Homo sapiens: one gene and its partners. The protein of the gene in region 2 interacts with the protein of the main gene of each other region in a pairwise test. Each region holds a gene or a part of one and is shown on either strand. Other genes may lie near its edges. The genes, in order: BIK, CYB561, CMTM2 and SLC19A3.

Evidence for each region.
Region 1: the proteins of CYB561 (region 2) and BIK interact in binary tests that used the Homo sapiens proteins (3 or more experiments, as listed by UniProt).
Region 3: the proteins of CYB561 (region 2) and CMTM2 interact in binary tests that used the Homo sapiens proteins (3 or more experiments, as listed by UniProt).
Region 4: the proteins of CYB561 (region 2) and SLC19A3 interact in binary tests that used the Homo sapiens proteins (3 or more experiments, as listed by UniProt).

Annotation. Positions count from the first base shown.
Region 1 is NC_000022.11:43,113,325-43,121,050, reverse strand, and holds part of BIK (bcl-2-interacting killer), read right to left. Parts: intron 1-7,726.
Region 2 is NC_000017.11:63,442,864-63,450,936, forward strand, and holds the start of CYB561 (transmembrane ascorbate-dependent reductase CYB561), read right to left. Parts: upstream 3,444-8,073; 5' UTR 3,382-3,443; exon of another isoform or gene 3,035-3,381; intron 1-3,034. UniProt on the Homo sapiens protein: Transmembrane reductase that uses ascorbate as an electron donor in the cytoplasm and transfers electrons across membranes to reduce monodehydro-L-ascorbate radical in the lumen of secretory vesicles.
Region 3 is NC_000016.10:66,574,939-66,582,983, reverse strand, and holds the start of CMTM2 (CKLF-like MARVEL transmembrane domain-containing protein 2), read right to left. Parts: upstream 3,522-8,045; 5' UTR 3,377-3,521; coding exon 3,092-3,376; intron 2,959-3,091; coding exon 2,800-2,958; intron 1-2,799. Other genes in the region: CMTM1 (CKLF-like MARVEL transmembrane domain-containing protein 1), read right to left, coding at 3,983-4,153, 5,782-5,880; CKLF-CMTM1 protein, read right to left, coding at 3,983-4,153, 5,782-5,880.
Region 4 is NC_000002.12:227,693,455-227,701,180, forward strand, and holds part of SLC19A3 (thiamine transporter 2), read right to left. Parts: intron 7,655-7,726; exon of another isoform or gene 7,597-7,654; coding exon of another isoform or gene 7,459-7,596; intron 6,111-7,458; coding exon 5,282-6,110; intron 2,628-5,281; coding exon 2,435-2,627; intron 1-2,434. UniProt on the Homo sapiens protein: Mediates high affinity thiamine uptake, probably via a proton anti-port mechanism. Has no folate transport activity. Mediates H(+)-dependent pyridoxine transport.

The DNA of each region.
Region 1 (7,726 bases), on a different chromosome or scaffold from region 2:
GGCACATGCCACCACACCCGGCTAATTTTTGTATTTTTAGTAGAGTCGGGGTTTTACCATGTTGGCCAGGCTGGTCTCAACTCCTGATCTCAAGTGATCCACCCGCCTCAGCCTCCCAAAGTACTGGGATTACAGCACTTTGGATTAATTTATTAAATACCCATTACCCTCTACCACAAAGAAGGGACCTAATCTGAACCTTTAACCATCTGGCCTCTGGGCCCAGGCCCTCAGATTGACTTGATATGAATGGCAAAGATCCCATCACCAACTGGGCCTAGGCTGGCCTTAGGGCCCAGATCTGCATGGGAAAAGTGTGGAGCCAGGGAGCGGAAGGTGGGGAGCCTGCCCAGGAGGGTCCTTGCAGCAGCGACCTCCTGCTCTGGTCTCTCCTGGCCACCCCACCAGCCCAAGGGAGGCCCAGTCCTGTCAGCTCCTACCTGGCACCAGCTCTGAATGCCTTACTGGTCTCCAGCCTTCAGTGGAGCTCTCTCCAACCTAATCTCAAGGTAGCAGCCTCAACCCTGACCCTGTCACTGCTCTGTTCGGCTCCCTAGACCTGGCCTGGTGCAGTGCGGCTCACGCCTGTAATCCCAGCACTTTGAGAGGTGGAGGCAGGTGGATCACCTGAGCTTAGGAGTTTGAGACTAGCCTGGCTAACATGGTGAAACGCCATCTCCACTAAAAATACAAAAATTAACCAGGTGTGGTGGCGCTCGCCTATAATCCCAGCTACTTGGGAGGCTGAGGCAGGAGAATCACTTGAATCCAGGAGGCAGAATATGCAGTGAGCCGAGACCGCGCCATTGCACTCCAACCTGGGTGACAGAGCAAGACTTGTCTCAAAAACAAGTGGGGGGTTGTGCCACATCCACTAACAGGCCCTCCCCCTGTGGCCCTGCCACCCCAATCTTGGTTCCCGCGCTAACCACACTCAAGTATGCTTTCCATGGATGGTGCCTGGTCCTGCCATGCCTCCAAAGTCTTCAAATGTGCAGAGCTCACCAGCCAACCTCAGACCGGCCCATGCCTACGCCTATTGGTCCTTTTTTAAAAATTAAATTTTATTATTATTTTTTTCACAGACAGGGTCTCACCCGTTTGCCCAGGCTGGAGTGCAGTGGCCTGATCATGCTCACTACAGCCTCAAACTCCTGGGCTCAGGTAATCATCCCACCTCAGCCTCCAGGGTAACTCGACAGGTATGTACCACTGCACTTGGCTCATTTTTATAGAATTGCTGTAGAGATAGGGTCTTGCTTTGTTGCCCAGGCTTGTCTCGGAACTCCTGGCTTCAACTCCCGCCTGGGCCTCCCAAAGTACTGAGAGGATGGGTATGAGGCTGGCCTATTCGGGCATCACCTTCTTGGACCCTCAGAGTCTGCTTGGGGGCCTCCTGGGGGTCCTGCAGCCCCTGTCTCTGCTCCCCTCTGGCTCCAGCTGACCACTGCACTCCAGGCTGGGCTACAGGGCAAGACTCCATATCAGAAAAAAAAAAAATTAGAATGGAGATACTAGTAACACCTATTGCACAGGACTGTTGTGGGGATGAAATGATCCGGCACAGAGTAAACCGCTAAGAGAGGGGCTGCTGCTCTTATCAGTTTCTGGTTGTCAGCCCAAGGCCTGGCATAGAGCAGACATATGTTTGTTGACTGAAGACATGAAGGCAACCTATTCCCAGAGGACCCACTGTGAGGTCACTGCAGCTGCAGATACAGGAAACTGGACTGGTTTTTATTATCTTTTTTTTTCCAGCAAACTTGCAAATGAGTAGTTGAAACCCTTCTTTGGTGAAGGAAGACACACCTAGCCATGTGTCCCCACCCAGGCTACAGCCCGCACTTAGCCTCCTACACACTCACCAGTGGAAACACCAGGCGCCAGTCAGAAGCCCTATTTTACCCTAAGAGGTTAGGATGCAAATCTAGTATGTGCAGAAAAGAGTACCACACCCACGGCCTTGAGGGCACCTGCAGGGCTCCGAGTGGGAGGGAGGGCAGGTTCTGGACAGAGCAGCCTACATTTGGTGAACAGCTCTGCACTCGACAGCTCGCCTATGGCTCATCTGGAAGATGGGGAAACGCCATCTACCTCCCAAGCCCCTCCCAGGTTGCCCAGAAGCACAAGCAAGTAGAGATGTGTTCTGCTCAGCCCTCAGCAGGTGTTCGAGGGCCGAGGCTGCAGGAGTGTCAGAGCGGGGTTGGGGGCAGAGGTGGATGGGGCTGGACCTGAGGATGAGGTCGAACTCCTGGTAGGGACCCTCAGACTCTCATGACCTCGCCCAGTCCTGTCAAAGCCAAGCAGGCGGGATCTGACACTTCCTGTTTCACAGGCAGGCAAACCGAGAGGGTCAGGGGCCACGCTGGGGTCACAGGGAGGGCCAGCTGAGTGGGCCCAGCTAGAAAACCCTGGTCCAGTCTTCCACGTGCCACCCTCCCAGTCACAGCCTGGCCCTGGACCATGAGGGTGGGGTGGCACAAAGCCCTTGGAGCGCACACAACTCCAGTGTAACCCAGCAGGAAACGCCCTGAGCCTGCAGCCAGGCTGGACCTCAGTTCCACCCCCTGCTCGGCCCCTGCTGTGTGAGGCAGAACAACCAGCTCACCTCTGAGCCTTGCAGAAACAGCCGGGCCTCCAGGGCTGCTGAGAGGATGAAAACATACACTACTGCCCATTTTCCACCACCTAGCAGGGGCTCCATAAAAGCTGGTTAACACAATCAACAGCCTTAGAAGAGAGGAGACCAGAGGCCACTCACAGCTCAGGACGCCACGGTGGACTGAACATGTTGCTGCCTTTCTGGAGGGTAGTGTGACCATCAGCATCCACCAGTCACACACGCACATGACCTTTGATTTCTAGGGATGCATCCCACACACACCCCTGCATGGACCTGGCAGCCTTGAAAAATTGAAGCCATAGATCACAGGCACCGCTGTGCTGTCATCACAGCCCTTCGGGAGGCCGAGGCGGGCACGTCGCACGAGCCCAGTTCAAGACCAGCCTGGGCAATACAACGAGACCCCCTCTCTAAAAATAAATTAACAATAAAAAATTTTAAAAATATATGAAATGGGCCAGCCGCGGTGGCTTACACCTGTAATCCCAGCACTTTGGGAGGCCAAGGTGGGCAGATCATGAGGTCAGGAGTTCAAGACCAGCCTGACTAACATGGTAATAAAACTCCGTCTCTACCCCGTTTCAAAAAAAATTAGCCAGGTGTGGTGGTGCGCGCCTGTAATCCAGCTACTCGGGTGGCTGAGGCAGGAGAATCGCTTGAACCTGGGAGGAGGAGTTTGCAGTGAGCCGAGATCACACCATTACACTCCAACCTGGGCGACAAGAGCGAAAAACTCCATCTCAAAAAAAAAAAATATGGGCCGGGCGCGGTGGCTCACGCCTGTAATCCCAGCACTTTGGGAGGTTGAGGCGTGCAGATCACAAGGTCAGGAGATGGAGAGCATCCTGGCTAACACAGTGAAACCCTGTCTCTACTAAAAATACAAAAAAAATTAGCTGGGCGTGGTGGCGGGCGCCTGTAGTCCCAGCTACTCGGGAGGCTGAGGCAGGAGAATGGCTTGAACCCTGGAGGCAGAGCTTTCAGTAAGCCGAGATCATGCCACCACACTCCGGTCTGGGCGACAGAGTGAGACTGTCTCAAAAAAAAAAAAGAAAAAGAAAAAAAAAAATCCGTAGTATGTACCTTGTTTCCTCAAGTTTCAAGAAAAAAAAAAGACAGCTCACTTTTTTCTCTTTAAACACTGATGTGTAGCTAGTAACTTGGATAAAAAGGTGCCACCCTACAAAATGTGCTCAGCGTGTTCTGATTCCAGGATGGGCTTGGCTGCCTGGGCTGGGCCTGGGAGACCTCCGTCCGTCACAGTGGAAACTGAAGCCAAGTGCCAGTGCCGCATCCGGCTTCAAGATCTAGAATCAGAGCCTTTGAAATGGAAAAGGGGCATCTGAAACGGCACCCCCACCTGCGGCTTTCAGAGCTAAGGCTCCAGAATGAAGGGGTCACCTGGCTAGTGACAAGATGGGAGTCACCCTGAGCTGCAGCTCCCCCCAAGATTCCCCTGTGAGAGGCCCAATATGGAGTATTACTATTTTGAGACAGGGTCTCTCTGTCACCCAGGCTGGAGTGCAGTGGCATGAACATGGCTCACTGTAGTCTCCACCTCCCTGGGCTCAGGTGATCTTTCCACCTCAACTTCCCAAGTACCTGGGACTACAGGTGCACGCCACCACACCTGGCTAATTTTGTATTTTTAGTAAAGACGGGGTTTCACCAGGCCGGGCACGGTGGCTTACGCCTGTAATCCCAGCACTTTGGGAGGCCGAGGCGGGCGGATCACGAGGTCAGGAGATCGAAACCATTCTGGCTAACACGGTGAAACTCTGTCTCTACTAAAAATACAAAAATTAGCCGGGCGTGGGGGTGGGCGCCTGTAATCCCAGCTACTCGGGAGGCTGAGGCAGGAGAATCACTTGAACCTGGGAGGCAGAGGTTGTAGTGAGCCGAGATTATGCCATTACACTCCAGCCTGGGTGACAAGAACAAAACTGTCTCAAAAAAAAAAAAATGCATTTAATACATGTAACCTACCCAACGTCACAGCTTAGCCTTTTGGAGGCTCCCAGCACTTTAAGAGCACAAGGCGAAAGGATCACTTGAGCCCAGGAGGTTGAGGCTGCAGTGAGCTGTGACTGCGCCACTGCACTCCAGCCTGGGCGACAGAGTGAGACCCTGTATCAATAAGTTAGGGGAGGAGATTTTATTCTATGTCCTTTCCTGTTCGAACACCTATAAAAATAATCCTAACCGTAGAGGAAGTCTAACAGACTAATAATTCTCTTGACTGATTTTGAAATGACCCCAAAAAGGGGAAGCCTGTGCCTTTTTATCACCATGAAGGAAGCAGAGAATGCCAAGCCACCACCTGGGCCTACAGTTGTTAAGTTTCAAAAGTTCATATTTAAAACAAGTTCTGGGCCGGGGCGCGGTGGCTCCCTCCTGTAATCCCAGCACTTTGGGAGGTCAAGGCAGATGGATCAACTAAGGTCAGGAGTTCAAGACCCCCCGGTCAACATGGTGAAACAGTGTCTCTACTAAAAATACCAAAGTTAGCCGGGCGTGGTGGCGGGCACCTGTAGTCCAAGCTACTCGGGAGACTAAGGCAGGAGAATCACTTAAACCTGAGAGGCAGAGGTTGCAGTGAGCCAAGATCGTGCCACCGCACTCTAACCTGGGCAACAGAGCAAGACTCAATCAAAAATAAAAAATAGGCCAGACGCGGTGGCTCACACCTATAATCCTAGCACTTTGGGAGGTTGAGGCAGGTGGATCAACTGAGGTCAGGAGTTCACAACCATCCTGGCCAACATGGCGAAACCTCATCTCTACTAAAAATACAAAAACTAGCCAGGCGTGGTGGCGCACGCCTGTAATCCCAGCTACTAGGGAGGCTGAGGAAGGAGAATCACTTGAACCCAGGAGGTGGAGGTTGCAGTGAGCCGAGATCGCGCCACTGCACTCCAGCCCCCGCGACAGGAGTAAGGCTCCATCTCAAAAAAAAAATAAAACAAGTTCTGAAATGCTGAGGCTGAAGAATATGAAGACTGCTCACCCTGGCCCCGACCCTGAGGCTTGAGAGGCAGGTACGGCCCCTGGGCTCCACTTCAGTGTTTGGGTCTCCCCTATGAACTTGCACCCAGCCCTTTCACACCCCAGCTCCTCCTTTACATCCTCCCTCTGTTACCAACATCCCCCAGGCAGGCACGGGGGACTCACTGCTTCCTTGGGGCTCAGGCACAAGTCACTTCCTCCCCACCCTCCCCAGGACAGAATTAAATGCTCCTCATCTGTGTTGTCCCAGCACCTTGGGTAAACAGACCTGGATTGGGCACTCAGCCCATCAAGGTCTCGTTAAATGTTTACCTGTGTGTCTGCCCCAGCCAGTCGGGAACCTGCATGGCCCCAGAACAGAGCAGGGACCCAGTGAAAGCCGGTGAGAGGATGCAGACAGCCTGAGAGTTCACTGCAAAATCCTGAGAATGAGGGAAGGGGTTACTCTGGTGCTGGGCTCACGATGGCAGGCTGTTCCTGGCTGGGAGACCCTGGACTGGACAGTATCACCTTCTGTTAAAGGGCAGGAGGGAAAGCCCCATGGGCAGATGTAGCCCTGAGAAGGAGGTGAAATGCTGCATGCATGGTATGCAGTAAGTGCCCACTAAGAGGCAGCTCTCATTCTGTGAGCCTGTTGCTCTGCGAGGCGCACACCCGTGCTGACCACCTCACGGTCCGAGCTCGGATTTATCTTCATGATGCGCCATTGTCTGCACAGGGAATTTCAGCTCCTCCTGGAATCAGGTAGCTCTCTTTGCCCTCACATGAAAGGGAGCCTCTAATCTCGAAGATACTGTCACACACAATAAATGTCATCTCTTGGCCAGGCACGGTGGCTCGCACCTGTAATCCCAGCACTTTGGGAGGCTGAGGCGGGCGGATCACAAGGTCAGGAGTTCAAGACCAACCTGGCCAACGTGGTGAAACCCCATCTCTATTAAAAATACAAAAATTAGCCTGGTGTGGTGGCACGCGCCTGTAATCTCAGCTACTCGGGAGGCTGAGGCAGGAGAATCACCTGAACCCGGGAGGCAGAGGTTGCAGTGAGCTGAGATCACACCACTGCACTCCAGCCTGGGCAACAGAGCAAGACTCCATCTCGGGGAGGGGGCGGTCAAGAATACTTGATCTTAAATATCCAAAATGACAGGGACCCTCACTCAAATAAACAAGTGAGCTTTTCTCTCTTTGCTGCATGGCTTTTCAGTTTGGCTAACTGGGTGCCAAGTTCTGTCCCACCCCCAGAAAAACAGGTTTACCATGCAGTGCCTGGCGAGGCCCAGTGGTGTTTTGTATTGTCACATCCTAATATTGACACTAGGAAAATCAGCTGCCCTGTGTGCCCGCCCCTCTCCTGCCTGCCTCGGGGCCAACAAGGAACTTAGGGGCCACGGACTGATTTGCTCACATTCTATGTTTCTCCCAGGGCCCAGCCCCAACCAACCAGTGGCAGGACAAAGGGAGGCTAGGAAGTGGCCACATGTGTCCAGTTCAGACACACTGCTGGCTTCCTGGTGACCACCAACAGTAAGACTGGTGCGGAGACTTCCTCCATACGGCTCAAACTGTTCTGAGCACAGACGGTAGTCAAAATCTCATGGGATCCGCTAAGTCTGCAGCAGGGGAAGCAAAAAGCCATTAATTGTCTACACATTTAATAGGTTCACTAAAAACAGGATGCTTTCCAGGGAGAGGGGAAAATACCACCAGCAGTGGTGTCAGCTTCAAGACTCACTGGCCAATCAAGCCCTTCCTCAATTACATCCTTCCGTTGAGACGGGATCAGAAATGGGGGAAAAAAAAAGTACACGGTTATGAGTAGTCTCTGGTTTATCTGCAGCTCTGTGACACAAGACGTAATTTTTTTTTTTTTGAGATGGAGTCTCACGTTAGCCCAGGCTGAGTGCAGTGGCACCATCTCTGCTCACTGCAATCTCCGCCTCCTGGGTTCAAGCAATTCTCCCGCCTTAGCCTCCCAAAGTGCTGGGATTACAGGCAAGTCAAATGTGTAAGAATCTTGAGCCGGGTGAGGTGGCTCACGCCTGTATTCCCAGCCATTGCACTCCAGCCTGGGCAACAAGAGCGAAACTCCGTCTC
Region 2 (8,073 bases):
TGCCCACTGCGTTTTATTAAAAGGCAACCAAGACTAATCTCATTATTGGGGACCAGACACTGCACATGGTGCACAGCCTCGGGGGCGGAAGGCGGAGCAGGGGAGGCTGGGAAGCGGGCAGCCTGGGCTGGCTACAGCCCTCCTTATCAACAGCAGAGTTTGAATTGAGTTAGGAAAGACTGTGACTGCGGAAAGGCCGATATCTCTTCTTGATGGGTGAAGGGGAAAACAGCTCAATTGCCCTAGAGCGTCCTAGCATGTGATGAAGGAGAAAGCAAAGTGTGGTGTGAGCTATTAGGGTACTTTCTTAGCACCCCAGTAGCCCCAGGAAGAAGGGGCTTCCCAGGCAGTGCTCCCCATCCCATGCCAGTCCTCCTGCATCCTCCCCACGCTTGTACCAGCATGGCACTAAGCCCTGGTGCATGCAGAGACACCAGGCCCTGACCAAAGGGTAAGAGAGAAGGCATTACAGGAGGGTGAACAAGCCGCAGGGGCTGCATTTCCATTTATCCTAGGGCGGCTGTCCTGGCCCAGGCAGCCCAGGGACCCGGGGTATCCAGGCTGCTTGGACCAGGTACCAAGGAACTAGGTACCCAGGAAGCAGCAGAGCCTGAAGTCAAACACTGAGCTCCTTTCTCCCACAAGACAGAGGGCTCCCAATGCTTACAAACCAAAATGTTTCCATTTCCATGAAAATCAGAAGAAAAAAATGAACATTTAGGGTTGAGGAAAATGTTGCAATTTTTTAAAACTTATTTTAATTAATTTTTTTGTTGTTGTTGTTAACAGTGTCTACCTCTGTCACCCAGGCTGGAATACGATGGCATGATCATAGCTCACAGCAGCCTCGAACTCCTGGGCTCGAGGGATCCTCCCACCTCAGCCTCTCAAGTAGCTGGAACTACAGCTATGCTGAAATGCCCAGTTAATTTTTTCTTTTTTTGGAGAGATAGGGTCTCACTATGTTGTGCAGGCTAGTCTCAAACTCCTGGTCTCAAGCAGTCCTCCTGCCCCAGCCTCCCAAAGCTCTGGGATTACAGACAGACATGAGCCAGCCCTAAAATGTTTTGTTTTTAAAATTAATTGTAATCCAGTCTGGACTATACTTGTATTTATACCAATGCAGTTGTAAAATATAATTTTTATTAATTTTTTTTTTTTTGAGGCTGGAGTGCAATGGCAAGATCTCGGGTCACCGCAACCTCTGCCTTCCGGGTCCAAGCAATTCTCCTGCCTCAGACTCCCCGAGTCTGGGATTACAGGCGTGCTCCACGATGCCTGGCTAATTTTTTGTATCTTTTGTAGAGACGCGCTTTCACCACTGCGCCGGGCCAATTGTTATTATTTTTTTTATGGAAGACGGGGCCCGTGAAGGCCAGAGGGCCAACGGCCCATGAAAGGCCCAGCGCAGCCCAGGTTAGAGAGATGTGATTTCAAAACAGACTCATTATTTATAACCATCAGCTCCTGGACAAGCCAAGTCCCTTCTCCAAGCCTGCTTCCTAATCTATAAAGTGGAGGATATCTGGAGCTACCTTATTGAACACAGAAGGAGTAAGTGGATAAAGGTGTGCCAGCGCCCAGCACAGTGCCTGCCACAAAGTAGGCATTCCATCAAAGACCAATCTTACAAAAACGAAATCTGGTCCTAAGAGCACCTTAGAAAGAGTCACACTGCTGACACATGAGGTTTGGGGCCACAGAGAGCCAGATGGCAGCCGTCTCTAATAAATCTACACTCCATTGCTGTCCACCATTAGCCCCTGCACACCAAGCAGAAGCTCCTGGGGCTGGAAGAACACAGGATGGTCTGCTTTTAATCTGTGACATTGTATATTCCCAAAATTCATTTATGAATTGTTCAGACAGTAGAGTGCTTTTTCCCAGTGAAGCTACGCTTTCAGAGGGGGTTAATTTCTCATTCCCCTCCACCAATGCCATCTAATGCCACTGAACCATCCCAGTATTAGCAGGAGCCCAAGCTCTGCCTGCCAAGGAAAAGTGGTGAGGGCAGAAAAGTAGTAGGACAAGGCTGGGCACGGTGGCTCACGTCTGTAATCCTAGCACTTTGGGATGCCAAGGCGGGCAGATCACTTGAGGTTAGGAGTTCGAGACCAGCCTGGCCAACATGGTGAAACCCCGTCTCTCCTAAAAATGCAAAAATTAGCTGCGTGTTGTGGCACACACCTGTAATCCCAGCTACTAGGGAGGCTGGAACAGGAGAATCGCTTGAACCCGGAAGATGGAGGTTGCAGTGAGCTGATATTGCCCTCTGCACTCCAGCCTCCTGGCAACAGAGCAAGACTCCATCTCAAAAAAAAAAGAAGGAAGGAAAGTAAGGAAAGCAAGAAAGCAATAAAGCAAGAAAGAAAAGGAGTGGGACAAGCAGGGTGGTTCCACCTCCAGCTCTAGGAGGCTCCCTCATGCAAGGAGGTGGGGCTGCCACCGCCTCGTATTTTCCTGCCTCCATCAAATTTCACCGGGAGAAATCCAGGCACCTAGAGGAGGTGGCAAAGCTTTTTTTTTTTTTTTTTCATTAGCTATTAAACCAAAGGGGCAGAATCTAGGCGCCCTAGATGTAACTTCATTTACGGAGTCAGAAAATCCACAAAGGCTGCCAAGGTGGAATGAATGAGAGGAGGACGACCAGAAAGGAGAAGTCTGGGAAGGGGACCCCAGATCCACACGGATGATCCTCGCTCCGTGATACAGTCGGGGACAGGGCAGGGAGGGAGGGAGGGAGGGTGGCCCTGCCATCTCCCAGGTGTCAAGGTGGCGGCAGCTCCGCCCTCAGCGCAGTTGGCACCGGCCTGACCCACCACAGGGCCACCGAGGCCACCGAAGCCATGGGGCTTTCCCACTCGGGAAACTCCCACCCTCGCGCTCAGAAGCTGGGGGCGTCGGGAGACACAGGCGGGGACCTGCGGCTCCACGTTGCAGCCCGGGCCCTGCTCGGGGCAAGAGGCGGTGGCTCCGGTTTCAGATTTCAAGAGGGCAGCCGTGGCAAAGGCTGGTTGGTCCATTTGCACCCTACCTTGCTCTAGAACGCGGCGCAGGAGCAAAGATCCAAACTCGGGGTCACCAGCAAGCGGGGGTCTCGGTTCTAACTTCAGCAGAGACCCGGCACCCGGGCAGGCCAGGGCAGGGGCCGCCTGGACCGGGAGAGGCTCGGCTCCGAGAGGGCGGGCGAGCCCTGCAGCCCTCGGGCCCAGGGTGCGGGTCGGCGCCGCAGTCCAGTGCGCGGCCGCAAGGGGCAGGTGCGAGGCCGGCTGCTACTCGGGAGCCCCGCGCTGTCCCTCCCTGCGCAGTCAGGGCTCACCTGGGCCGCCCCCGCCCCGCACCCCTGCGCGCTCCGCTCCCACCCCCAGCCCGGCCTCCTACCTTGCCTACCCGAGCGTCCCTTCAGCCTCCCCGCGCCGCGCCCGGGTCGCTTGGCCGGTTCTGCGGGCCGTGGCGCGACGGCGTCGCCATGGCAACCGGGCGGCGGGCTGGGCGGTGTCTCCGGGACCGGAAGTGGCGTACGCGGCCCCCGGGGCTGCCCCGCACGTGCCAGGTCCCCGCGGTTGCGGCCACGCTCGGGACCGGGCCCTGCCAGCTCCGGGCCCGCACGTGGGCGAACCGCGGCCACCGTGAGCCCGGCCTCGCGACCTCCCTCCGGGGCCCCCATGATCGGGGGTGCGTGGGATCTGCGGCCTGCGGGGGTGGAGGGCCGGGAGCTCCCCCGGGCCTGCCTCGAGGGCCGCGGGATTCGTCCTTGCGAGCCCCGACTGCGCACGGAAGGACCTGGGGTCGGCCAGGCCTGGGGGATGGGACGGGCCCCGAGGAGAGCGGGTGCCAGGGGCGAGACCCGCCGCCCTTCCCCGGCTTGGTCCCGCGCTTCCTGATTTTCTCGCTCCACGCCTCCCATTCTGCCCTCCACCTTCTTCCCTGCCCCGCCCTCGCCCTGCCCGGGCCCAGGAGGCCACTAGATGTCAGACCCGGTTCGGGCCTTGGCCACGCCGCCGCTCCGGGAGCCCTGGGGGCACCTCCCCAGCCCCCACGGGGGAGACGATACTGCCGGGAAGGCCCGGACTAGCCCCCGCCCCCGCAGAGTAGCCTTCGGGGAACACCGATTCCACCAGGCTCTCACGAAAGCCGAGAGCTTGCCGTCCGCAGCTTCCCCTGCCCAAAGCGCAGAGAAACGAGGGCGCCGAGGCCAAGACCAAGACCGGGAGCCAGCCCCTTCGGAGCCCGGTCCAGGCCCCCGGTCCAGGAAGTGCTGTGGGTAGATAAGGGGCCCAGCTCAGACTTCCTACAAGCTGGGAAGAAAGGGTTCTTTCCTGTCTGATGCCGGGCCAGATGTAGCAAGCGCCTAGGGGTAGGAGGGAAATGGGGTTTCCTCCCCGCAGAGGGAAACCGGCCTCCATTCAGGAACGCCCTCCCCCACCTGCCCTCCAGGCACCGAGGTTCTGGGAGGCCGGGGGGCAGGGAGACCTGCTTACTTGAATGCGCTTTGTGTATTGCCTGTGTATTGCCACAGGCAGTGGGCAAGATAGGCCCTGGGGATCCAGTACTCGCTTAGTACACAGAGAGCAGTCTCCAGCGCCAGGCGAGACGCACAGGCGTGTCAGCTGCATATGGCACACGGTGGCACATGGCACACCTTCCACGAGCAGACACAAGGGGCCGACACAGCAGGGCCCACCCCCTCAGAGGGACCAAGCTTAAACCCTCCAACAACAGAAAATTTGTAGAGTATCTTTCAGTTGGAGGAAATTAATGGATAATTTAAAGTAAGAAACAGTTTCCTTAGCGTGCTAACAGGCAGAATCCCTGTGGATTGAAGGTGGAACTGAGCCATGTCCTTTGTTTGGTCTGTGGATTTAGACGTGGAGGAGGAGTCCTGACCGGCTGAGCAGGGCTGAGTTCCCTCGTGAGAGCCCCGGGCCTTCAGCCCCTTCCAAAGCCAGGAGAGACTCCTGCTGAGGGGTGATAGGGGCCCTTTGGCTTCCCCCTCACCCCACGGCCCAGCAGCACGGGGCTGCAGGCTTTTCCCTTAGGAGGAAGAGCAGCCGCCTCCCTGCCAGCAGTGTTCTCAAGGGCCTGCTTCAAGTGGGGAGGGGTGGGTGAGGGTGTTCTGACTGAGGGAGAGGCCTGCACACCCGCTGCATGGGGGGGCTCATGGCTACACCTAACCCATTTTAAAGAACAGGCAACGCCACCAAACTGCTCTCTGGCACTAGGGCCCAGAGGCCTTGCCCCAGCTCCCAGATGTCCCAACCCAGGACGACAGACACCCAGACTAACTACCTTGCAACCCTGTTCCTGCTGCCGAAGCTCCTGCCTTGGAAGCCTGAGAAGTGTGCAGTCCTTCAGCTTGGGAAAGGTGGGAAAGGAGAGGACCCCTCCTGCCCTTTCTTGAGTGGCACAAGATGAGTTCCAGGGCCTCCTGAGTTGTGCTAACGCCTGTAATCCCAGCACTTTGGGAGGCCGAGGCGGGCGGATCACCTGAGATCGGGAGCTAGAGACCAGCCTGACCAACGTGGAGAAACCCCATCTCTACTAAAAATACAAAATTAGCCGGGCGGGGTGGCACATGCCTGTAATCCCAGCTACTCCGGAGGCTGAGGCAAGAGAATCACTTGAACCCAGGAGGCAGAGGTTGTGGTGAGCCAAGACCGCGCCATTACACTCCAGCCTGGACAACAAGAGCAAAACTCCGTCTCAAAAAAAAAAAAAAAAAAAAAAGGAAATGCTGACTGTGTTTCCATGTTTCCACTCCCTTCCCACATCGCAGAACCACGCTAGCCTTTCTGTTTTCAGATGCACCAAGTTCACTCCCACCTCTCCATGGAATGTTCTTTCCTGGATCATCTCTGGTCACATTCTCTCAAATCTCAGCTCAAACATCACCTCCTCAGGCCTTCCCTGACCATCCAGAGGGCAGCTGGGGCAGGGATTAGGAGGTAGGAGTGCTCCTGGATTCCGCGTGCTGGGCAGCCAGGCCTAGAGTGCCCCCTGGTCTCTGACAGAAAGCATTTAAGGAGGAGGAAGCATCAAGGAAGCAGGCAGAATGTGAATAGAGAGCTGGAGACTCAGGCCGTAGACCCACCTGGCACCTGGCTAGTCACTTCTCCCTTGCTAGGGTTACCAGATTCAGAAAGAAGAGGAAAAAATAAAAAAAGGCTTCCCAGTTAAATTCAAATTCAGGCCGGGTGCGGTGGCTCACACCTGTAATCCCAGCACTTTGGGATGCCGAGGTGGGTGGATCACCTGAGGTCAAGAGTTCGAGACCAGCCTGACCAACAAGGTGAAACCCCGTCTCTACTAAAAATACAAAAATTAGCTGGGCAAGGTGGCAGGCACCTGTAATCCCAGCTACTTGGGAGGCTGAGACAGGAGAATTGCTTGAACCCAGGAGGCGGAGGTTGCAGTGAGCCAAGATTGTGCCACTGCACTCCAGCCTGGGCAATGGAGTGAGACTCCATCTCAAAAAAAGAAAACCAAAAAAAAATTCAAATTCAGTTAGTTTTTTCAGCATGAGCATGTCCCAAATATTACATGCAGTATACTAAAGATGTATTCCAGCTGGGTGCCATGGCTCATGCCTGTAATCCCAGCACTTTGGGAGGCTGAGGTGAGCGGATCACTTGAGGTCAGGAGTCCAAGACCAGCCTGCCAATGAGGCAAAACCCTGTCTCTACTAAAAACACAACAATTAGCCAGGCATGGTGGTGGATGCCTGTAATCCCAGCTACTGGGGAGGCTACGACAGGAGAATGGCATGAACCCAAGAGGTAGAGGTTGAAATGAGCCAAGATCATGCCACTGCACTCCAGCCTGGGGTGACAGAGAGAGAATCTGTCTTAAAAAAAAGATGTATTCCTCACATGTGAGCAGATGTCCTGTGTTTCATCTGACAATCCTACTGCTCTTGCTCGGGTGTGGGAAGGGCAGGGGCCCAGTTCTAGCCCCTCCCAGCAATGGCTTCCTCCCTCATCTCTGAACCAGTTAACCCTCATTCAGTAGGGACTTCAGGCAGAGGCCCTGACCTTGGGCAGCAGAGGATACAAAGGGATAAGAGATGGTTCCCCAGTCCTCAGACACTATAAGATTCAAATGCACACCATTCATTCTTGGGAAAGTTTTATTTTTGTACCTTCTCTGTGCCAGGCACTAGGTGAGGTATTGGGGAACAGTGAACAAGACAGGCACCACCCTGTTCTCACAGGCCTTCAGTCAGGGGAGCTGCACAGAGATTTGGGGAGAGCCTTTGAAACTACTCTGCCCAAGCCCATCTCTGACCACCTTACAGAGGGAAAACCAGGATTAGGTACAGGGCATAGGAAGGCCCTCAACCCAGATGTGAGGGTCAGGGAAGGCGTATTGGGTCATGACAGAATTATCGAGCCAGAAGATGCTCAGGTGTTAACCCGGCAGAGATAGTCAGGGAGGAGGCAGGAGTGTCCCTGGTTAGAGGAGCAAGGATGATGCAAGGGAAGGCTGTAGGGGGCTAACCTGCAACCCTCGGGGCTCCCAGGCTTATTTTCATGAGGATTTGCCGGAGCCAGAGTAATAGTGCAGAACTGAGCCACAGCCTGCAGAATCAGCACTCAGGAGCCAAGCCCTGTCCAGCTCAGGAGGGGGCCTGCCCTGAGGGACCTCACAATTGACAGACACAGCCCCCGACCCCATATCCTGCAGTGGAGCAGCCTTAAGTCCGCAGGTATCATCTTCCGGGCCTGCTCCCTGAGGAACTTGAAAGTACGAGGCTACTTTGATGAGCTTAAAATAGACCAATTAATCACTCAGGGAGGAAATCCATCTCCCAGCTTCGGGGGAGGGGACAGGAAAGCAGTAGCCCCGGCAGGACCCGTCAGAGCAGCCAGCAGCACAGCGGCCATGTGGCAGGGCACCTGCAAGGCTTCCGGAGCCACCGACGAAGACCCTGAGTCACCTGCAGCCTCTGGAGTGTGGGGGGAAGGAGGCTGAGGGACGTCATTGCCTGTGAGTTGTCACCCTGCCCCTGGTTAACCCCAAGGCTGGTCAGTCTGGGAAAAACAAGACAGACAAAAGAGCCAAATACCACTGGGG
Region 3 (8,045 bases), on a different chromosome or scaffold from region 2:
AGAAGCTAGTAAGCATCTCTAAGGAAATGCTCCTGAAGTGTCACCTAAAATACAATTTGTGCAGGTTTGGATAGATGTCTATTTTATTTTATTTTATTTATTTATTTTTTGAGATGGAGTCTCACTCTGTCGCCCAGGCTGGAGTGCAGTGGCACGATCTCGGCTCACTGCAAGCTCTGCCTCCCGGGTTCATGCCATTCTCCTGCCTCAGCCTCCTGAGAAGCTGGGACTACAGGCACACATCACTGTGCCTGGCTTCTTGACACCTCTTTTATTATTTTTTAGACAGGGTCTCACTCTGTCACTCAGATTGGAGTGCAGTGGCACCATCAGAGCTCTCTGTAGCCTTGACCTCCTGGGTTCAAGCCATCCTCCCACCTCAGCCTCCTGAGTAGCTGGAACAACAGGCATGTGCCACCATGCTTGGCTAATTTTTAAATTTTTTTGTAGAGACAGGGTCTCCCTATGTTGTCCAGTCTGGTCTCAAACTCCTGGACCAAAGGGACCCATCCACCTCAGCCTCCCAACGTGCTGGGATTACAGGTGTGAGCCACCACACCCAGCCCAACAACCACTGATGGATGTTCTCACTCATTGTTCTGTCTCAATCTCTTATTTTCTCTCTCTCTGTGTGCTGTGTTCTGGGTAATTTCCCCATACCTTTCAGTTAACAGTTCCCTCCTTCAGCTATGTCTGATCTGTTTTTGAATTCATCTATTGACATTTTTATTTCAATAACTATATTTTCTATTCTAGACACTGTACTTTTTAAAAATCTGTCTATTTTGTCCTCATAGTGTCTTACTCTTTTCTCAGGACTCTTATGTCTATAATCCCTTAAAATATATTATTATTTTCAGACAGCTCTTCTATTATCTCATATTCTCAGGATTCTAATCCATTTGTTGTGTTTGTTGATTCTTAGTAATGGGGATTTTTTAAAATCAGGTGTTTAGTAGTTTTGAATTATTAGTTCATTTTTGACAAGGTTTTCCCCCCACCCCCACTGTGAGAATCTCTTCATGCCTTGATTGTGATTTTGCATTTGTTTCTATCAGGAGTCCAAGGATATCAGCAGAATGTCATCAGACTGGGATCAGTTTTTATGGTAATTCCCAGGGATGAAGGTTTCTGGGCTGCATGAAGGTTTCTAGGCTGCAGATAACAAAAATTCAAACTCCAATCTGTACAAAGGGCAGGCTTAAGCTTTCTATTTCTCAAGGAAGACTTCCTCTCCGCCCACTCAAAGCTCAGGCAGAGATGAACATGTTTTCTTATTCCTCTGTGTTGGGAATAAGAAGGGTATGTGTCTTTGTCCATCTTTTCCCTAAGGAGGTAGTCTTTCCAGGGCGCTGGCTTTATACAGGGTTTTCAGTTCTAAATTCCCACTTTGCTTAGGATCAAGGCCTTATTTCCTGACTTGAGAGTGCATGAAAATCCAGGCTGTAGGTTCCTGAGACAATACCTCTTGGACCATTCCCACTCATACTTTGTAGCTTATGTGATCACTGCCCTGTTTGCCATTTCTGGCGCCTGTGTGTTTTCATTTCTTTTTTGCCAGCTCATTCATTCAGTTAAAGCAATACTGGTTACATTTCCCCTGGTATTTTTAGGTAAGCACAGTGGGAAGATGTTCAGGGTTCATTGGTTTTTCATCTTGCTGGAACTAAAAATGTCTTCTCAGGCTCCTTGTTTAGGAACTTGTCCTCTGCCTGTCCTTTTACCTTGTCCTCTGCTTGTCCCTTTTCTGAGAGTCCTTATTTGGCCCTCCTGTCCTTTCTCCCTGTATCGGAGGTCCTCATCTGCTTCACCAAGACCTCTGGATCCCTGGACCCTAATAGTTTTTAACAAGAAGGCAGGATGAAATGTACTCATAAAGCTAAGTTTGAAGCTTTTTTCTGCTACTTACCAGCTGAGTGACCTGGGGGCAAGTTACTTGGCCATTCTAGGCCAATTTCCTCATGTGTAACGTGAGTGAAACAGTGAACAAGAGGGCTCTGGAGGCAGGCTGTGAATGTGCAATGAACAAAGGGACTTGGGAATTGGGGTCTTCATTGACTGGCAAGGGGTTAGGTGGTTGTGCCCTGTGGTTAAACAGGTGATGGGCAGGGATTCAATTCCATGAGTCCTCAGGCACGGTGTCAAGCAATTTACATTTAATCCTCAGGATTGAATGTCAGTTCTGCAAGGAATGTGACTGTCTCATGTTACAGATGAGGAAACAGGCTGGGAATGGTTTAGTAACTTGCCCAGTTCTGTCTCTTTCCACTAGATGACTGCTTTGGGCTGAACATCCTTCTGATCCAAACATCCTTTATAGGGATATTCACTGGAGACCTAACGCTGCTTTAGAAGTGATTTTTAAAAAAAATTCCCATTTTGTTTTATTTTATTGACTTATGGGAGAGTAATTTTCTTCTTTGAATTTTGGGAATGGGGTCCTTCTGGGGTGATCTCCTGTCAAGTGTGAGCTGGCACAGGAGTTCGGAGGAACAGCTGGTTGCTACACCTCCCCTTCCCCTAAAGAGAACAAAGGCTCAGGCCCTCTTTGACCACCAGGTAAGTAAGAGTTCCCCACTCTCACTCCAACACACAGATAGGCTTTTTGGAGCATTTTCTGCCTAGCTACCCCTCTTGCACCCAGCTGCCTCTGCCTGGGCCCCACTGATGTTCTGAGTCCCTGACCCAGGCACAGATATGGGAGGTGAGGTGTGTCTCTCTGTTTGGTGACTTTCCAGGTGCCAAGACACACCTGATCAGCATTCTGGATGCAGGCACTCCCCATCACCCCTTACTTACAGAAATGGGCCACAGGATGAAGGGTATGTATCTATGAATGGCAAAGCTGTACAGTAAGATGAAGAAGCTGAAGAAGGATATCTCCATGGTGATGATAAGCCTCAAGATGGGGTGCACGGTGAGTGAGGACAACAGTATCATTGCAGCTATTAGGCAGCCCTGCAGTGAGACATAGACACCTGAGCCAGCAGCAAGGGCCTTTCACCATCTCTCTGAGGACCCCTGGAGCCTACTCCTCCTTCCCCCCACCCTCGGCCAAGGCCCCCCACCCAGGGATACCAGTTTAGCTCACCAAACTCCGAATCTTGATCTCAGCGTGCCCCAAGAGCCAGAACTCTTTATTGCTGTCTTTTAATTCCCACCGGTAGCGGCGACACCCCCTCCTCGTGCCCACTTCGTGCTTGGGCTGCACCGCCTTTTGAGGTTTGTCCGATGGCTCCTTATGGTCCTGCACCGCCTTTTGAGGTTTGTCCGATGGCTCCTTACCGTCCTTCTTGTCTTCCTCGGGTTTGGCCCCGGGTGGAGGTGGAGCTGGTGCTGGCTCTGGCTTGGCCCCCTTTGCCGCCTTAGGTGCCATGACTGACTCGGTGTCCTTGGCTTCTCACAGCTGGCCTGTTTCTTCTCTCTCCTGCTGTTTCTGGGTAGGCCAGGCCTACTAGAGTGCCTGGTGTCCACCGAGCGGCTCAGAGGGCGTGCTCAGCTAACTGCCAGGACCACCGAATGCCAACTCCCGCGCCCTCTCCACGCGCGCCCGTCTCCTCGCGCAGCTCCCATCCGCCCGGCAGCGGCCGGATCCTCCCACCCTCCACGCGCCGGCCCCCGACGGGCCCCAACTCCGTTCCCAACCCGCCGGTCCCACCTCCGCGCGGAGCTGCCCTCGCGGTCCCATCCCGGCGTCTCCAGGTGGCCCCAGGTCTGTAAGCCGCCGCTCCGCTGCGGGGTCGGGGGGCTGCGAGCACCGGGTCACGGCCCTGAGCTCCGCGGGCGCAGCGCCAAGCGCAGGAAAATACAACGCGACTTTCACACAAGGCAACGAGAGGAAGCAGGTGTTCTCGATAAAAGCAGCAGCCCTAATTTTATGGTCACATTTAGGCTGGAATGGGTGACAGCATGCGAGCTCGGGGGTGGGCTCGGAGGCAGCGATTCGACAGACACGTGCATCTGCTAGGGCGCCGGGCTGGCTTCAGGCGGGCCTCTGCGGGGCGTCGGGGCCGGTTTCGGGGTAGGCGTCCTTGGCGGGGGAAAGCTTCCTTTCAACTTCGACTCCCAGGAATCTTTTCAAGTTGGTCCTCATCTTCGTGGTGACCACAAACGCATCGATGCAACACACGATTACCGCTGTGAGACACAGGGACTGTCAGATACAAGACCATATGCGGGAAGGAAAGACGGGGTTATTTTGCAGCTCAGTAGCAACCTCTCGAACCTATCCCTATCCAGGGTGGGCGCTGCGGGTGGCCTCCTGTCCCCTCTGACCCTTCACTACTTTCTTGGCGCCTGCCCAATTGGCTGCTGCAGGCGGATTCTGCCTTTCCCAGAAAAAGGGATTTTGGAAGTGGGGGATTTTGTTGCCAGTAGTAGCCTCGCTTGATGTCTGAGGCACCCGGAAAGGACTAGGGAAGGGCAGTGGCCCTAGGTGGCTGCAGGTAGGGGTTAGGTCCTGAGAAGCCCTCTCCGTGGAAAGACTTTTGGGCTATGTTTGCAAAGGGCAGGAAGGAGTTCCTAAGGGGAGGAGGAGGACCCAGGCACTGGACTAGGGTCTCTAAGGAATCTGGTGTGGCCAGGACCTCCAGAGCCGCTGAGAAGGGGGCAGAGTTGAGGCTGGAGAGGTGCAGGATCTGGGACTCTATCAGGAGGTCAGGTGTGAGATTCAGAAAACCTGCTTGCAGTGTTCATGAGGTGAATGGAAGGTGAACCAGGCTGGAGGCAGGAAGACCAGTGCGTGGTGGGGTGGGATGCTGCCATCCAGGTAAGAAATGGATACCTGGGGGTGGGAACCCCTGGCAGTAGAAGGAGTGATAGCGGAGTCAGCCGATGGGGACCAGGGGCTGATGGCACAGATATTCCCCTGTGCACTCCGGGACTCTTGACAACCTTGGATGTTTCTCTTTATGGTCACTTAATTCCTGGCTGCTTAATGAGCTTTTCCTAGGTATGTCTTGCCCCAGTGAATCTGTGAGCTTCCCCAAAGGGGAAAGGGCTCTATCCCCAGCACTGAGCTCATGTCTGGCACAATCAATGGGATTGACAGATATTTATTGATTATAGAATGAATTCAAATGAACTCTTTTTCTGCATTAATTTCTGTTCTCATTGTTTAACTTCTTGAACCAAAGCCCTACCTCCCCTCCCAACCCCCTGAATCTTCCAAGCATTTGATCTGCCATTTCTTTTGAGTCCCAATTTGTCCCAGTCTTGTGGCCCAGAGCAAGGTATTTAACCTCAGTTCCTATATCTGTACAAATGAGAGTTGTAAAGATTAAGTCAGAGTGTGCCCTGCTTGGTGCAGGGCATATACTGGGCACTTCAACATGTGGCAGTTTCCTTCCTTCCTTTCTTCCTTCTTTCCTTCCTTCCTTCCTGAATAGGCTGGATTCCTCACTTTAGACAGTGCACTTTTCCCCCCTTACAATCTCTCTTATCATCTGTCTTTAAAATACAATTCTCTAGTCCAGAAAATCAAAGTCCTATTTATAGACAAAAAGATCTTGCTTAACATTTCAAAAATAGTGTCCACAATTCTCAAAAGGGGTTTAGCAGACTCTTGTTTTTGTACCTATTTGGAGAATGCATGTTAGAATTAAGATTTTCATGAGCTCAGAGTTTGTGCAACTTCATATCACCTGAAGAAGTCAGTGCAAGAAGGAGAGTGGGTGGCAGTGGGGATTTTGCTTGGTTAATGATATAATGGGGTCTGCCAATTTCCCTTTTCAAAGTCTTGGAATACTGATCTTAAATGGAGTCATGAAGGCCTCTACTTACCCCCCCGACATAGAGTAAATGCCTTCTTTTCTTTTCTTGCATGGCCAAGATGGCAACTACTGAAAGGAACACAGCTGTAATGATACTGTTGGTAAGATCCTGTAATAAAGAATTGAAAATTATCAAGTTTACACAACAATATAATTTCACAAATATTTAAACTGGTCAATTACACATCTAAGAATAGATGCCTTTAAAAAACCTTCCATTTGATTAAGATGAGGAGGAACCTTCAGAGGCATAATTCTTACATCGTCCAGAGACATGAGTTTATGTGGTTTTAAGATCCTAGATATGACTTTGTCTGTAGAAACGGGTTTATTTTCATTAAAGAATACCATTAGAAAAAAAGCTAACAACTTTTTCCTTAAAGGGAATAGGAAAGTGAGCATGAAAAAACCTGGTGGTCAAGGGGCCTATCCCAAATTGGCCCTCCATAAATGTGATTTTTTTTGGGAAGTCTTATATTTTTTAATGTAAATTCTGCATTCTATTCCATAACTCATTTGTTTTAATATAAAAATAAAATTTTAGATGAGCACTTTAATTATTGGTTTACTTCTTCTCCCAAATCTGCAGGTAAAGCCAACGCTCTGGAAATTGGGCCACATTTATTCTGTGAGTTCATGTGTCCCAAGAGCATATGAACTCATCTGAGGAGCAGGCCTGATATTCTGGAGTGAATGTTTTTTGCTCTTTCCTGAAACATGGCCAGAATTGGGTGTGCCCCGACATCTGCAGGCTCATTGTGCTCCTTCTTCTGGGTTTCAATTGGATTTCAGTCCTGAGTTCTTTTTTTTTTTTGAGACAGAGTTTCGCTCTTGTCACCCAGGCTAGAGTGCAATGGTGCGATCTTGGCTCATTGCAACCTCCGCCTCCCAGGTTCAAGCAATTCTCCTGCCTCAACCTCCTGAGTAGGTGGGATTACAGGTGCCTGCCACCACACCCAGCTAATTTTTGTATTTTTTAGTAGAGACAGGGTTTCTTCATGTTGGCCAGGATGGTCATGAACTCCTGACCTCAAGTGATCCACCCGCCTCGGCCTCCCAAAGTGCTGGGATTATAGGCGTGAGCCACCGCGCCCGGCCAGTCCTGAGTTCTTTAACTGCTAGCCCAACCTGCTTCTTTGTGTGCTGAAATGAATAGTGAGGATGAGTGCGTGGCAGTGCCCTCCTGGGTGAGCAGTGGCTGGGTTTCCTTAGCAAAACAATAATGGAGGAACGAGTACACAGTGTGTCAGTGGCAGCAGTGTATGGCTATGGGCAAAAGCCCAGAGGACATAACCACAATATGGGCCAGAGAGCTAATCTGAATAGCTCAAGTCTTTGAGTGTTGATGGTCTGCCTTGGTAATGGCAGCCTTTCTGGCACACTCGTCCAAACACAGCAAGAAGCACTGCCATCCAGTGTATGGTATCATGGAATCACAGTGGCTCCAATGGAGCTCTTTGATGTGTCAAGCATTTCCCAGTCCATCATTTAACCTCATTTAACCCTCACAAAGCAGCCTCCAAAGTCAGAATTGCCATCATCCCCAGTTTACAGAGGACATGGTGGAGGCTTGGAGTTTTTCAGTTGCCTAGGATTGAATAATGGGTGGAATCAGAACTCAACTCACTATTGCCTCCCATGAGGGACACCCAAATAAGGAGGAAATGAGCTATTCTCCCAGTCTGGAAGTGCAGCATCCAATCCATCTTTGGCATTTTCTGTGGAATGGGTCTGGAGGGTCAAAATGATACAGTACCAGTCAGTTGAGTATTTTTGTTGATGAACTCTTTTGGCCTGCCAATTCCTAGATTGGGCGTATTTTATCACCCATCTGCCAACTTGCTAATTTGTAATATGGGGATAATGACTGAGGTTCATTGGCTCTGAGGATTAAATGGCATAATGAATCTGAAAGCATCTGATAACATGCCTGGCATCTAGTAGCTGGTGGGAGTGCATCAAAATGTAGGTTCATATCTGCCCTCAAAATGTTAACAGATAGTAAACTCTCTGCAAACTCCAGATGTTCTTCCTATTGGGGCTGGCGACCGAGGAGCCCTCTTGTGGAATGTGACTTGCCTCTTGGAAAGGCACTAATGCCTACTGTTTTGGTGCCTGGTAGTTAATGCTGGAACAGGGGTATGTAGCAGGGCTGGTGGAGGTTGGAAGTAAGTCCCAGCTGGGTTCTGCAGGCTGAGCGAGAGGTCTGCCCATAGTGGGCAGGCCTGACTGAGGCAGGTACAGTGGTTTGCAGCTTTGCAGGAAGCTTACACC
Region 4 (7,726 bases), on a different chromosome or scaffold from region 2:
TCACCAAAGATGCCAGGAACATACATTGGGGAAAAGACAGTCTCTTCAACAAATGGTGCTGGGAAAACTGAATATCCGTATGCAGAAGAATGAATGAAAGTAGACCCCTATCTCTCACTATATACAAAATCAAGTCAAAATGGATTAATGACTTAAATCTAAGACCTCAAATTATGAAACAACTACAAGAAAACATTGGGGAAACTCTCTGGGACGTTGGAGTGGGCAAAGATTTCTTGAGTACCCCACAAACACAGGCAACCAAAGCAAAAATGGACAAACGGGATCACATCAAGTTAAAAAGCTCCTGCACAGCCAAGGAAAGAGGCCACCCACAGAATGGAAAAACAAATTTGCAAACTACCCATGTGACAAGGGATTAAAAACCAGAATATATAAGGAGTTCAAACAACTCTACAGGGAAAAAAAGTCTAATAATCAGATTAAAAATGGGCAAAAATCTGAACAGATGTTTCTTTAAAGGCATGCGAATGGCAAACAGGTATATGAAAAGGTGCTCAACATCATTGATAAGAGAATTATAAATCAAAACTACAATGAGATATTATCTCACTTCAATTTGAATGGCTTTTATCCAAAAAACAAGCAATAAATGCTGATGAGAATGTGCAACCTCTGCCTCCCAGGTTCAAGGGATTCTCCTGCCTCAGCCTCCCCAGTAGCAGGGATTACAGGTTCTCACCACCATGCCCAGCTAATTTTTGTATTTTTAGTAGATACGGGGTTTAATCATATTGGCCAGGCTGGTCTCGAACTCCTGACCTCAGGTGATCCACCTGCTTTGGCCTCCCAAAGTGCTGGGATTACAGGCGGGAGCCACTGTGCCCAGCCGTGAATATTTTTTTTTAATGCAAAGAAATGATATAATCCTACTTTAACAAAATCTTCACATTTAAAAAAAAGCAACCTAAGATACATGATTCTGATTAAATTAAGACATTTCCATGAAGAAAATAAACATACCAACTAATTGTTTTTTCCTTTGATGATTTTTTCCCAGAGTGCTCATATTTCTGTGTTGTAAATTGTTTATAAAACATTCTTCACAAATTGAAAGCAAAACTTGATGAAGCTTTTGTCTCCACTTCTTTCATGCAATTTGAAATTCAAATGTTTCTCATTTTTTTTGGTTAATAGCAAAGCATATTTTCTGTAGTCAGCTTTAGCTGTACTTTTATATGAAACCGAATGGTTTTTTAATCATTTTCTTAAAGAGATCTCTGAGAAAAAAGTAGAAGCAAAAATGACGGGAAATTCTAAATCCCAGAAATTATTTTTAGAAAATGACTGAAAACTAGATCTGGCGTGGTGGCTCACACCTGTAATCCTACCACTTTGGGAAGCTGAGGCCAGAGGATTACTTGAGCCCAGGAGTTTGAGACCAGCCTGGGGAACACAGTGACACTCTGTCTCTACAAAAATGAAAATTAAAAATTTAGCCAGGCATGGTGGTGTGCACCAGTAGTTTCAGCTACTCAGGAGGCTGAGGTGGGAGGACTGCTTGAGCCCAGGAGATCAAGATTGTGGTGTGCTATGATTGCACCACTGCACTCCTGCCTGGGTGAGACCCTGTCTCAAAAAGAACAAAAGAAAAGAAAAACTGCTTGGTTCCATACACGACTGCAGCTAAAGGTTTCTTGTTATCTTTGCATCTACTTTTTTTAGTATCCAACTTTTTAATAACTTTCCTGAGAATCTTTTGTGTCATAAAAGTATGTGCTTAGAATTTCTCAAGCAAACAAATGAAAGTAGGAATGAAATCTAAACCTAACCATTTGAAAGCAGATCACATCACACTTTATGTAGAAAGTTGCTGGAAATAAACAAATCAAATCCTGACAATGATGCCAGATGTAGTGGCTCACACCTGTAATTCCAGCACTTTGGGAAGCCAGGGCAGGTGGATCGCTTGAGCCCAGGAGTTTGGGACCAGCCTGAGCAACATGGTGAAACCCCATCTCTACAAAATACGAAAAATTAGCTAGGCATGGTGGCACATGCTTGTCATCCCAGCTACTCAGGAGGTTGAGGTTGGGGACTCACCTGAGCCTGGGAAGTCAAGGCTGCATTGAGTCCTGATCGTGATCGCACCACTGCTCTCCAGCCTGGGCAAGAGAGCCAGGCCATCTCTCAAACAAAATAAAACAAAAAGAAAAACCTGACAATGTATCACTGCTTTTGGTCTATAAACCTACAGAGTTTTTTCCCTTGATGACTTAAGGTATATTGTAGCAATATTCAGAGAGCAAATAGTTAAATGAAAAGTTGGCTTAGTTGTGTCTAATTTAATATAAAGCAGTCAACATTTAATATTGCAATTGACTAAAATCCTTCTGAAGTTCTTAGAGAAAGTTTAGAAAGACAGAAGAGAGAGGAATACAGTTCAGTTTTAGGAGTGGTTGGTAAAACTTACACTGCTATGGTTATAAGAAGCATATAGCTGGACTTGAATATCAAATAGCCAGCATAGCACGCCCAGATATTGGCTGTGTAATGCATGAGAAATAAAGAACCGGCATTGACAACTGAGAAGACCACCAGAGCCAGCTCTCCCAGAAGGTCCCAGTTGACTTTCACATAACCCACTGCAAAGGCAGCCACAGCCCCTGAAAAAAAACATTGAAGGCAATCAAACATAATGACTTTGCATGCAGGAAAATATCAACACCCTCTCTTAAAAACCCAGGTCTCGGGTAATTCTGAAAGATAAATATATTGCTTTCACAAAATTGTGTGATCGACCTGAATGTGGATCTATCCTTTTCTCAAGCGTGTCTTCTTTTGGCTTTTCTTTTCACTTGCTATTCTTTCGGTCACTTAGTCACCATACTTTTAATTAGCATCAACTACACGCCAGACACTGTATTCTGCAGAGGGGCCAGAAAGGTTCCTAACCACAGCAGTGTAAGGAGAAATGATACATTAACCTAGTCACTCAGTACAACATGCAGGGATGGAAAAGGATGAAATAAATTCTCTGGGAATACACTGGCCTCTCTATTTGCCTTTCTTTTCTCAGTTTTTGCTGTAAGTCTTTTTCAGTGATGAGTATCAGATGTGTTACATTGAAAGTTTTAGTCTTTTTTCTTGCCCTACCCAGTTTTAGTCTTTATTATGAACCTTTAGTAATCTTAGTCTTATTTCCAATCTCCACTCTAAAGTCTTCAACATCTGACATAATTTACTTGAGAAGCTTTGGGTGAAAATATCTATATAGACTTACAGAGTTCAAGAAATTGAAATAATTGACAGTAATTAGGGTTAGCACTTTTGTGTGGTTCTCTTTAACAAAGGTAAAAGGTATTTAGGGCTGGGGACAGTGGCGCACTCCTGTAATCCCAGCACTTTGGGAGGCTGAAGGGGGTGGATCACTTGAGGTCAGGAGTTAGAGACCAGCCTGGCCAACATGGTGAAACTCCAGCTCTACTAAAAATACAAAAATTAGCCAGCATGGTGGCGGGCACCTGCAATCCCAGCTACTCAGGAGGCTGAGGCAGGAGAATCACTTGAACCCTGGAGGCAGAGTTTGCAATGAGCTGAAATCATGCCACTGCAATCCAGCCTGGGTGACAGAGTAAGACTCTGTCTAAAATAAATAAATAAACAAAAGGTATTTAGATTTCAAATTACTACATTGACATATGACTAACTTTCCCACATGTGATCATGACCACAGAGGAAAAAAAAAATAACTATTTTTCCCCCCATGGATTTGGAATGTAGGAGCAATAATTTCAGTGAAGCAATTCTGGCACAGTCCTGGTTTCCAGGAGTTAAACTGAAGCTTCCCAAAAGGGAGATAATAATAAAATAGAGGTCACACGGGTTTTCTAAAACTTTTTGTAAATGAGGGTGGGGCGAATTCTCACTTCCTAAAAAATATCTTCAAAGTCTCATTTGACATTTAAGCTTCCAGTTACTAGGAAATAAACATTTATTGTAGATTAAACTTCAAAGACAGATTTCCCTCTGATATTAAAATCCTGACTTTCACATCTCTTCCAGCCCTCATTTAAATACCATGAGAAAGCTGCTTTTGAAAGTTGTTGGTGTATAGCCTAGAATTGTTATAGGTGCATGCTAGCTAGTTCAAATCCTGTATTAACAAAACCCTCAGTGAGAATTTGGAATCCTTAATTTATTTTCTAAAATAATGAAAACATATACACATATATGTATATATTTTGATATTAAAAATAATCCTAAAAGAACAGGGCATGTTATTAACCTTTGTGCTAATGATGAATTGGAATCTTAGGGATTCAACTAGAATTTCATTGTTTGGTGCTAATCCCTGAGCTCCTAAGAGTTACTTCTTGTGGCTGGGCGTGGTGGCTCACGCCTGTAATCCCAGCACTTTTGGAGGCTGAGGCGGGTAGATCATGAGGTCAAGAGATTGAGACCATCCTGGGCAACATGGTGAAACCCCGTCTCTACTAAAAATACAAAAAAATTTAGCTGGGCATGGTGGCACGTGCCTGTAGTCCCAGCTACTCAGGAGGCTGAGGCAGGAGAATAGCTTGAACCTGGGAGGCAGAGGTTGCAGTGAGCTGAGATCGCACCACTGCATTCCAGCTTGGTGACAGAGTGAGGCTCTGTCTCAAAAAATAAAAAAGTTACTTGTAACTACAACACAATAGAAAGTCACAGTATTCTTATTTTTCCAGTGACTTTCATTCTTTTTATTTTTATTTTTATTTTTTTGAGAGGAGTCTCGCTCTGTCATCCAGGCTGGAGTGCAGTGGCACGATCTAGGCTCACTGCAAGCTCAGCCTCCCAGGTTCATGCCATTCTCCTGCCTCAGCCTCCCAAGTAGCTGGGACTACAGGCATCCGCCACCATGACCGGCTAATTTCTTTGTATTTTTAGTAGAGATGGGGTTTCACCGTGTTAGCCAGGATGGTCTCCATCTCCTGTCCTCGTGATTCGCCAGCCTCGGCCTCCCAAAGTGCTGGGACTACAGGTGCCCGCCACCACGCCTACCTATTTTATTTTTTGTATTTTTAGTAGAGACGGGGTTTCACTGCATTAGCCAGGATGGTCTCGACCTCCTGAAATCGTGATCCACGCGTCTCAGCTTCCCAAAGTGCTGGGATTACAGGCATAAGCCACCATGCCCGGCCGTGACTTTCATTCTTGACTGAAAAAAGTTATGCTTCCTTCTGAACAGAGCTAATTCGCTGCCATGAAGTTCGGTACCTGGAGGAATGGACTTAAGCGGGTAAAGCCAACAAAGGAAGATTAAGTGACATTTGCTTACCTCCAAAGGTTGCAATAGCTTCTACGGCCCCATTATAGATGGAAGAATCTTGGGATGGCGCCTTGTAATCCCACAGGATTTGAACATAGTTCAAAACCTGGTTAAAACCTGCTGTGGCGAAAGCCCACCATAGAGACCAGTAGAAAAGACGTTTTGAGGAGTAGCACTCCTTCAAATCTTGGAACCACTGCACAAAAACGTCCACAGTCACATTGCTTGGTTTCAGGCTGTTCAGCTGGCCCTTATTCAGCTTCCCTGAAGTGCTGAGTATTTCTGATGTGGGTTTCTGCTCTTCACAGCCTGGTGCTTCACCTTCGTGAGTTTCCTCTAATACTGGATTCACGCTTGATGACTTCTTTATTTCTCTGCTGGGTTTTGCATGAAAAAACATGCTTTTCTTGGGCATTGGTAGGAAAAGTGAGAAAAGGAAAGCCACGGAGACAGAGGCCAAGGATATGACGTTGAGGTAAAAGTACGACATGTTCGCCAGGGATACCAAGAGTTGAGCCAGCACCGACCCTGCTGTGTAGGCGGCCAGCGTGACGCTCCTGCAGTAGCCGCTCACTCTCTGGTAGTGCTCGGGGCTGACCACGCTGTATATGTAGGCGTAGTAGGCCACCTCGGCGGCGGTGACCATCCCATAGAAGAACTCTACAACCTGCATGGTCTTCACTCCTTGGCCAAACAACAGCAGCAGCCAGGTAATGATGAAACTGATACCTTGCAAGATGATGACTGGCTTGTAGCGGACATAATCGGTGAGGACAAACACAGGCAGCAGCAGCACCAGGTAGGAGTATGTCCAAACGGGGAAGATCTCATTTGTTATCTGCAAAGTTGGTAAATTGCATGACCACGAAGCACCGGTACTTTACTAAGGTACCTGTGGTTTGTATCTCAAATTCTGCCTCCAATTGGAAATTATTCGCATTACGGAGAAACATAATGAGAAAACTGATTTTCAAGGAAATCACAAGAAAAGATAGTCTCCTTTCCCATTGGTAAAAACCAATGTACACACTTAGATAAACCCCGGCAGAAAAATATATTGGCTTATTGTGCAATCTGAATTATGTATTAAGTTTAGATAGTATGTACAGTTGAGTAGATGAGTTAAAAAGTTTTTGGACACTTCTAAGATTTTCCGATTCTTTTTTTTTGAGGTGGAGTCTTGCTCAGCTGCCCAGGCTGGAGTGCAGTGGCCCGATCTTCGCTGACTGCAACCACCATCTCCCAGGTTCAAGCCATTCTCCCATCTCAGCCTCCTGAGTAGCTGGGATTACAGGCACCCGCCATCATGCCTGGCTAATTTTTGTATTTTAGAAGAGACGGGGTTTCACCATGTTGATCAGGTTGATCTTGAACTCCTGAACTTAGGTGATCCGCCCACCTCGGCCTCCCAAAGTGCTGGGATTATAGGCGTGAGCCACCGTGCCCGGCCCAAGATTCTTAAAAAATATAATTTCCTTCTTGTTTGAATATTAACATTAGACAAGTAGACCACAATGTTAAAAGAATCCAGGCCAGGCATGGTGGCTCACACCTGTAATCCCAGCACCTTGGGAGGCCGAGGCAGGCAGATCACGAGGTCAGGAGTTCGAGACCAGCCTGGCCAACATGATGAAACCCCGTCTACAACTAAAAACACAAAAATTAGCCATGAATGGTGGCAGACACCTGTAATCCCAGCTACTTGGGAGGCTGAGGCAGGAGAATCGCTTGAACCCAGGAGGCAGAGGTTGCAGAGAGCCGAGACTGTGCCACTGTACTCCAGCCTGGGCAACAGAGCAAGACTCCATCTGAACAACAACAACAAAAAGAATCCAACAGCCTTTATTTTCATGTGATCTATCACTACATCAAATATTTCAGCCCTTCCAACATCTGGAAAGATATGGGAAAATAGGGAAAGAGTAAATAACTTTGCCACATTATAGAGTGGAAGCAAATAATGTATCTCATTTTCCTTCATGGGCAAATTTGCTAGGTTCCCAACCTTCCCCCTGCTCCCCCTAACAATTCTGCTGATTTGTTTATGGCTCAATTTAATATGGATCATCTCACAGATTTAGTCAGAAATGCATGGGATCTCAATTTTCACAGTTGGAAGGACTGGAGTTGCTGATCTGTAGGGATGGGTGAGTGCCGCAGCCTCTCAAATCACTGAACGTACCCACCTTGACACCTGGATCACTGAGGTTGCTGGAGAAAGCAGGAGGCCACAGAGCAAAGACCACACAACTGAGCTGCTCCTTGGAGGGAAGGTCTGTTAACTGGTCCACAGTGGCTCGAGAAGCAGAACCCAGTGGATTCATTGAGTTGCTTCTGACCCTGCATCTGTCCTTTGTTGTCTTAATTGTGGCATGCTTCAACCTGAGCAACTCGGAAACAGGGTTGTCCCTAAGTGATCTGATGCTACAGAAGAAGCTTGCCTTTCTGTCTTTG